Homo sapiens: one gene and its partner. The protein of the gene in region 1 interacts with the protein of each later gene in a pairwise test. Each region holds a gene or a part of one and is shown in the gene's direction. Other genes may lie near its edges.

The links.
Region 2: the proteins of EVI5 (region 1) and FAM161A interact in binary tests that used the Homo sapiens proteins (3 or more experiments, as listed by UniProt).

The regions. Positions count from the first base shown.
Region 1 is NC_000001.11:92,508,254-92,513,324, reverse strand, and holds the end of EVI5 (ecotropic viral integration site 5 protein homolog), read left to right. Parts: 3' UTR 1-4,629; downstream 4,630-5,071. UniProt on the Homo sapiens protein: Functions as a regulator of cell cycle progression by stabilizing the FBXO5 protein and promoting cyclin-A accumulation during interphase. May play a role in cytokinesis.
Region 2 is NC_000002.12:61,830,061-61,834,345, reverse strand, and holds part of FAM161A (protein FAM161A), read left to right. Parts: intron 1-4,285. UniProt on the Homo sapiens protein: Involved in ciliogenesis.

The DNA.
Region 1 (5,071 bases):
ATGGAAAATTGAATTTTCTTCAGACAAAACTGCTCTTGTGCAATATTTTATGCTCAGTGAGCAAATTGTGTATTTATGTTTATCAATTTGTTCTCAAGGTGGCTGTCTACAGACATTTGACCAAGACATACATCTGATTTACCTTGTGTTTTTTTTTTTATTGTTGTTTTTTTTTTTAAGACAGAGATTCAGTCTGTCACCCAGGCTGGAGTGCTGTGGTGTGATCTTAGCTCACTGCAACCTCCGCCTCCCAGGTTCAAGCAATTTTCCTGCCTCAGCCTCCCGAGTACCTGGGACTATATGTGCGCACCACCACGCCTGGCTAATTTTTTGTATTTTTAGTAGAGATGGGGTTTCACCATGTTGGCTGGGCTGGTCTCGAACTCCTAACCTCAAGTGATCCACCCGCCTCAGCCTCCCAAAGTGCTGGGATTACAGGTGTGAGCCACTGCACCCAGCCTACCTTGTCTGTTTGTGTCTGGGAGGTTTTTTTTTTCTATTTTTATTTTTTCATGAAAATTATTGGTGGGCCACTGAAAGTCCCCACACACAAAGCCTTTATTCTATATAATTTTATAAACACAAATTCATGATTATCTGTTTTGAGAGTTTTAAGTTTTGTTTTAATGTTTAACTTTTATGTGCATATGATGCTTCCATGTGTTGGTTACTAGAGTAGTAGGTTAACTACAGACATACTGTTTTGTTTGTACATATTTATAAATCTGTACCACCTAACATTGAACATCATTTTATATGAAGAACATACATGTTGCAAAATGACTGCTTTCAGCATCTAACAGGACTTCTGTAAATAATAGGTTAAAAGTTAAAAATAAAACACTAATGTTTTAAGAGCTTTAGTATTTTGCTTAGCATTCAATACTAGCAGATTCATAACTGATGCCTGTTCAAAAACACTGTTGGTGGAATCTTTTATTTCATGTGTATGTAACTACTAAATTTTTCATGACTGAAGAGGTTATAGCACATATTAGTTAGTGCTAATATTCTACTGAATATAATTTAAGCAATGGGCTAAGGTCCAAGAAACATAGCAATTATATCTACAAATAATCTATTAACATGATCTTCAGAATCTCTAGTTTTTGTTCTATAGATAAAGCCATAAGAATCCTTTCCTACCAGTTTTTCCTATATCATTTAGATATTATTTCCTAGAAAACAGGATGCCTGTCACTGATAAGTTAGAGAAAACACCCAAATTATACTTGCACTATGGAAAGACGACATGAATATGTTGACTGGGTACTTTCTACTCTCATTTTTGTTAGCCTATGAAAAAAAAAACATTTTGTTAACCTATGGAAAAAGCCTTGGAAGAGAAAAGTAGAATTCAGTATGTATGGAGGCACAGTTTTGCACAGTATGTTGCATGCGGCAAAAAAAAAAATATGAAATAGAGTAGAAGAGATAAAAGTAGTTTTCTGTCAAAAACTAGGAGTTAAGCCTTCAGGTACGTTGTGGACTAGGCTTTCCAGCAAGGTTTTTGTAGCTATTTGCTTGCCTGAGAAATGAAATTGAAAACATACCCCTGCGTGTCTGTCCTTAACACCAGGCTAAATTCTGGTGGTTAAATAACTTATCTGTGGTTACAAGCTAGTAAGTAGCAGAGCCAAGATTTTTTTTAATATAGAGACAGGTGTCTCACTGTGTTGTCCAGGCTGGTCTTGAACTCCTGGCCTCAAGTGGTCCTCCTGCCTCAGCCTCCCAAAGTGTGGGGATTACAGGTGCGAGCTACTGCTCCCAGCAAGAGCCAAGATTTTAACCTAGATCTCCCTAACACCAAAGCTTTTGAAAGGGTTCAGCTGAAGAATTTCTCAATTCTCTGTTTTGTTTTGTTTTTATTTTTGTTTTTTGAGATGAAGTCTCACTGCACTCAGGCTGGAGTGCAGTGGTACGATCTTGGCTCACTGCAACCTCCACCTCCCGGGTTCAAGCGATTCTCCTGCCTCAGCTCCCAAGTAGCTGGGACTACAGGTGCACGCCACCACAACTGGCTAATTTTTGTATTTTTAGTAGAGATGGGGTTTCGCTATGTTGGCCAGGCTGATCTCAAACTTCTGACCTCAGGTGATCCACCCACTTTGACCTCCCAAAGTGCTGGGATTACTAGACGTAAGCCACCACACCTGGCAATTCCCTGCTTTTTTGACAACATAATTTAAATGAATTTGATTTAAATGTTTCCTGAATATATATACAGATAGATAGATGAGTATCAACACTTACAAGCTCTACACAGTCTGTGAGTGTAGATACTACTTACTCGTAGGATTGTCTTGTGCTTTGGGGATTTTTGTTCGGAGTTCTATACTATCAGCCCAGAAAGCTATCAATGTCCAAGTGAAGTGAGATGATGCATGGCCACATTATTGCTTTGACCCTCACATCAAGAAATCTGAATGATCTGGACCAGGGGTCAGCAAAGTGCAGCCTACAAGCTATTGCAGTCAGCTGCCAGTTTTTACTTTTTTAAATAGTTGGGAAAAAAATTCCAAAGACTGATATTTTGTGTCACATGAAAATTATATGAAATTCAAATTGCAGTGTCCATAAGTAAAGTTTTATTGGGGCACACCCATGCTCACCCTTTTAAATATTGTGTATGGCCGCTTTGTGCTACAGTAGCAGAGTTGAGTCATTGCAAGGGAGACCATATGGCCCAGGTAGCCTAAAATATTTATCTGATCCTTTACAGAAAAAGTTTGCTAACCCTTGATAACAGATACTCTAAAATGCAGGTTTTTCTTCTTCAATTTAGCTCAGTGGTAGGTCAAATTGTTTGCTTTTGCTATTAAGCTTATGATTTGGAAACGTAAAATTTCATGGTGGATATTATAATCAGAACTATTCAAAAGGGAAAACATGCCAGCCATTTTATATGATGAAGTCTCTTATTCCATAGAAAACTGTAGAAAGATATCTGTATCTTTGGAGAAGGAGAAAGAAAGGAAAGAACTCCAGAATCCCATCACTGTTCTTTAAAGCATGCATCACAGACCTTTAAGAGTATGCTTTATTGAGTAAAGGTTATAGTTTGACTTTAAGATAAGAAATTTTCTAGAATCATGTTTGAATTCTAAACGTTGATATTCTTAAGTACCATTTCTGATTAGGAATTAGGTGTTAAAAGAATCATGGTAAGGAAACCTTAATCCGTTGAAACTCTTGTAATTTGGACAACAAAAAACTAGAAATAACACTCTTTTCTTTGAAGATCTGATTCAAATACACCTTAGAAGAGTTTAAAATCTCCCAGGCCTTTAGGATGCAATAGGATATTATGCCTTGGTTTGACTCCTTTTCATTCAAATTAATGTAAGTATGTTGTTCAAGACTTTGAAGCATTGAACAATGTTCTCGATGAATTTTATTTAATTACTGACATTTTGTGATATTTGAATGTTATTAAGTTAAACACTTAGAGTTGAGTATATTCAGGGGAGAAAAGTGAATGAAATGACTCATAATAAGAAAGCTTGCTCCCTTGGGACAGTTACCTTCCTGGTGTCATTGCCATCCTGGGTTGACAAGCTGAGAGTAGAGGATACAAGTGATGTGAATAAAATGGAAATTGCATTGAGTTAATGAAACAGACACTTTTAGATCAAGAAAACACTTCAACAGCCTTTTTAGAAATTGGCACACTCCTATAGTCCCACCTACTCAAGAGGCTGAGGCAGGAGGATCACTAGAGTACAGGAGTTTGGGGCTGTAGTGTGTAATGATCACACCTGTGAAAGAATAACCACTGCACTCCAACCTGGGCAACATGGCAAGACCCTGTCTCTTTAAAAAAAAAAAAAATCCTGGGAAAAGAAGTCAAAGATGTAATTTTACACAATTTCTGCCCCCACCGTCTTTTTTGTTTGTTTGTTTGTTTGTTTGTTTTTTGGCTAGATACTAGGTATTCAGTGTTTGCTGAGATGACAGGTTTCTACTAATCAGCCAGTTATTTGGGAAGGAGAAAAACTTTTTCTCAATTCTGAACATGATGCAGCTTGTTAACTCTCCAGATAGTGCCTTTGATTGAAAATAAGGTCTACACCTTTTTAAGTATATTATTTCTGACATCGTAAGAAATAATTTAGTTCCTTATTCTCATTTATCTTTTATATAATGTACTGTAATATTCAGGTTTAAAGTAAAATAAGTATATGAATTATATTTTGGTAAAACTGTTTCATGACCAGCTTGATTAATGTATATTAACATACCAGACATTGACAGCGAACATTTCATGAAATCAGTTATTTACTTACCAAAACAATGAGTTTTAGCTTGAAAGTTACTGCTGCTCTATTATTAACAAAACTAAGTTTTAAAAATTAATTTTAATTCTACTGAAGTTTAATTTCTGGTTAAAGGTATAGTGGATGCTATTTATGATCCAAGTTTTTACATCACATCCATTGATCTGCCTATCCCTTCTTTTTACTCCAAAGAGGAGATGATAGAATAATACATTCAGTATACTACCAAGAAGCAAAGTTATAATGTGTTTCATTTTGCTATTGGAATTTTTTATTGTAACATTGTATGATAACCTGAAATGTTTACTTGTGCCTTTTCTTTAAACAATTAAAGTTTTCCATTTTATAAGAATTTCTGTTTCCTTCAGCTTTTCAACTTTAAAAGAGGAGGGGCATCAAAACACTGTTAACAAATGGGTGGGGCGCGGTGGCTCACACCTGTAATCCCAGTACTTTCGGAGGCCGAGGCGGGCAGATCACTTGAGCTCAGAAGTTCGAGAACAGCCTGGCCAACATGGTGAAACCCTCTCTCTACTAAAAATACAAAAATTAGCCAGGTGTGGTGGTGCATGCCTGTAGTCACAGCTACTCAGGAGGCTGACACAGAAGAATCGCTTGAACCCGGGAGGTGGAGGTTGCAGTGAGCCGTGATCACACTACTGCACTCCAGCCTGGGCGACAGAGCAAGACTCCATGTCAAAAAAAAAAAAAAAAAAAGGTTGGCCTGATGTGAAACGTTCATTAGCAAGGTTTGTGCTCCGAAGGTGCAGGGACTACATCCACCTGGTCCACCC
Region 2 (4,285 bases), on another chromosome or scaffold:
TTCTCCAGTGTCTGTTGTTCTCATCTTTATTTCCATGTGTACCCAGTGTTTAGTTCCCACTTGTAAGTGAGAACATATGATGTTTGGTTTTCCGTTTCTGCTTTAGTTTGCTTAGGATAATGGCTTCCAGCTGTATCCATATTGTTGCAAAGGACATGATTTCATTCTTTTTTATGGCTGTGTAGTATTCCATGGTGTATGTGTAACATATTTTCTGTATCCAATCCACTGCTGATGGGCTGGGTTGTTACCATGTCTTTGCTGTTGTGAATAGCATCAGCACTTGTTATTGTCTGTCTGATTTTTTTAGAAAAATATTTTTAGAGACAGGGTTTCACTCTGTTGCCCAGGCCAGTGCAGTAGTACAATCATAGCTCACTGGAACCTTGAACTCCTGGGCTCAGATGATCCCCAGTATGAGCATCCCAAGTAGCTGAGACAAAGGCCCACACCATCATGCCCAGCTAATTTTATTTTTTGTAGAGACTGGGTCTCGCTGTATGGCCCAGGCTGGTCGTGAACTCCTGGCCTCAAGTGATCCTCCCACCTCCACCTCCCAAGTTGATGGGATTACAGGCATGAGCCACTGCACCTAGCTTTTGTCTGTCTTTTTGTTATAGTCTTCCTAGTGGGTACAAAGTGGTATTTTATTATTCAGTAACATTCTTTCAACTGTTCTTTTATCTTTTTCATTACAGACTCTATCTACTAGCTTATTGATATGGTAGGTGAGGATTTAGCTGTTTTAACACGTCCTCTCGGAAGCACACTTACCTACCCTTTCAACGTCTTTCCATCTTTCTGTTTCCCAGTCAGCTCTATCACAGTTAGATCGGAATTCAGTGTTATAACTTAGTAAACAATGTTAGCAGCTGAGCCCTATATTATTATCATCACATTTCCTTTTTTTTTTTTTTTTTGAGACAGAGTCTCACTCTGTCACCCAGGCTGGAGTACAGTGTCACAATCTCAGCTCACTGCAACCTCTGCCTCCTGGGTTCAAGCCATTCTCCTGCCTCAGCCTCCTGAGTAGCTGGGATTACAGGTGCGCGCCACCGTGCCTAGCTAATTTTTTTGTATTTTTTAGTAGAGACGAGGTTTCACCATGTTGGTCAGGCTGGTCTCGAACTCCTGACCTGATGATCCGTCTGCATTGGCCTCCCAAAGTGCTGGGATTACAGGCGTGAACCACCATGCCTGGCCCATCACATTTCCTTTAAAAAAATTTTTTCTTGTGTTAATAATTACTAATTTTGTTTGGTCCTCCCCCCACCTTCCCTCATTCCCCACCAATGTATGTATCATTATTATTCTTAGGCTTTTCTGTTAGCTCTCAAAAATCCCCCTCAAACAGTTAAACACATTCGTAATTCATCAGTTCCTTTCCTCCCCTGGAGCCCACAAGTGTCCTGCTCCACTTTGGAATGGTTTCTCTCTAGGCCAGCAGTCCTCAACCTTTTTGGCGCTAGAGACTGGTTTTATGGAAGACCATTTTTCCACAGACCAGGGTTGCGTGGGGTGGGGTGGATGGATCGGGAAATGGATCATTTCAGGATGAAACTGTTCCACCTCACATCATCAGGCGTTAGATTCTCATAAGGAGCATGCAACCTAGATCCCTGGCATGAGCACTTCACGATAGGGGTCACCCTCCTATGAAAATCTAACGCTGTAGGAGGCAGGGCTCAGGCCATAATGCTCGCCCTCCCACTGCTCACTTCCTGCTGTGCAGCCTGGTTCCTAACAGGCCACAGACCCGTACCTAGTTCGTGGTAGGGACCCCTGCTCTAGGCCTCTGGCATAAACGACATCTTAGGACTTTTTCACTGTTATACTGGGGAGTAGTTAGATATTAACCTGGATTTATCTACATTTCTTGTATTTCTTTTAAAATCACTGTTATTTTATTCTAGTTCTGGAAGATTTCCTCAAATTTATCTTCCAAATCTGCATTTTTTGCTTACCTAATGAAAAATGACATAATTTCCAGAATGCTTCCCATTTATTAAATATTCCTTTGGTATTTTTCATGGGTGCAGTACGTTTTTTTTTGTTGTTGTTGGTTTTTTGTTGTTGTTGTTGTTGGTTTTTTTTTGTGTGTGTGTGACAGGGTCTTACTCTGTCCCAGGCTGGAGTGCAGTGGCATGATCTCGGCTCACTGCAACTTTAACCCCTTGGGCTCAGGCAATCTTCCCACCTCAGCCTCCCAAGTAGTTAGGACTACAGGCACAAGCTACCATGCCAGGCTAATTTTTGTATTTTTTGTAAAGACAGGGGTGTTACTGTGTTGTCCATGCTGGTCTTAAGCTCCTGGGCTCAAGAAATCCTCCTTTCTCGGCCTTCCAAAGTGTCGGGATTCCAAGTGTGAGCCACCACACCCAGCCTGTCTTTTATATCTCTGAGCATACTGGTGATATTGTCTCTGTTTCCTTCAAGTTCCTTTTTCTCTTTTTTAGCCTCTTGTCTATCATATTAGAAGCTTTCCTCAGATTATCTTTGGTTGTCTGTTTGCATTTAAGAGGGAGACTGCACAAAGCTATTTGGAAGCTGGTTTATAATGTTTTTTGAGAGGTTGCTGAAAGACAAGCACTCCACTAAGCACTTTATATGCATTGTCTTAACTGACCTTTACACTGCTCCTGTGAGGTTCTTATTTCACAGATGAGGGACATCTTGAGGCTTAGATGATACAACCAGAAGAAGGGGAACCAGGATTCAAACCCAGATCTGACTGTCTTCATGTGATTCTTTTATCTATCATATTGTTTTCCTGCCCCCTTCTCAACAAATGCTTTTTGAATATCAGAAAATCCCTTGAGACCCTTAAAGTCAGATAGAAACAAGACAGACAAATGTAGTCATTCAAGACACACAATTGCAGCAATTACAGATGTGTGTTGAGACAAAATTGTGAATATGATTGTTTTGGAGGTTGGGGGAATGGTCAGATTGATATGTTATTTTTTTCTGTTAACCTCAATTCCAGGGAGCAGGTACATAACCTGGGAATACTAATATTTGTGTTAGTGACATGCGAGGCTTGTTCCAACAGGTCTAGAAAAAAAAAAGGAAAGTAAATAAATGCTAAATTAAAGGAATCATTATGGGTGATACTATAATACAAGAAAGAAAGTATGAAGTATTATTTGGGAAGACCAATATTGAACACATATGCAGCAATGATTTATTATAGTGCTGTTTGTCTAAGAAATATCTTTTTTTTTTTTTTTTTTTGAGAAGGCGTCTCACTCTGTCACCCAGGCTGGAGTGCAGTGGCTCGATCTCAGCTCACTGGAACCTCCGCCTCCCGGGTTCAAGTGATTCTCCTGCCTTAGCCTCCTGAGTATCTGTGATTACAGGCGCGTGCCACCATGCCTGGCTAATTTTTTTTGTATTTTTAGTCAAGACGAAGTTTCATCATGTTGGTCAGGCTGGTCTCGAACTCCTGACCTTGTGATCTGCCCACCTCAGCCTCTCAAAGTTCCGGGATTACAGATGTGAACCACCACATCCAGCCAGAAATATCTTTATATTAGAAAAATTAGGCCAGTGACTCACCCTGTAATCCCAACACTTTGGGAAACTGAGGGGGGGAGGATCATTTGAGGCCAAGAGTTTGAGACCAGTGTCTACTGTTCTCATTTTTTTTTTTTTTTTTTTTTGAGACAGGGTCTTACTCTGTCACCCAGGCTGGAGTGCAGTGGCGTGATCTCGGCTCACTGCAACCTCTGCCTCCTGGGTTCAAGTGATTCTCCTGCCTCAGTCTCCTGAGTAGCTGGGATTACAGGTGCACACCACCATGCCCGGCTAATTTTTTTTGTATTTTTAGTAGAGACGGGATTTCACCATGTTGGCCGGGCTGGTCCTGAACTCCTGACCTCAAGTGATCCACCTGCCTCGGCCTCCCAAAGTACTGGGATTACAGGAGTGAGCCACCGTGCCTGGCCTACTGTTCTCATCTTCATATCTGTGTGTACCCAGTTCCTCCCCATTCAGCTGGTCATTGAGAGACCTGTCAAATTTTCTTCCTAAATAATTTTTGGATCTGCCCTTCACCATCCTTGGTGGTGAAATGCCAGGTGGAACCTTTATTTCCTATCTGAATCATAATAGTTTGATTGATTTTTCTGCCTTGCTCTTTGCAGAACCATTCATTATACCTTCGCCTTACCATTTTCATTCCCCTACTAAAATGTTAACCCTGGGTAGACAATTAATAAGCCTTTATAACAGGGACAATCATCCATTCTCACCAATTCCATTTATTCTCATTTTCAATGAATGA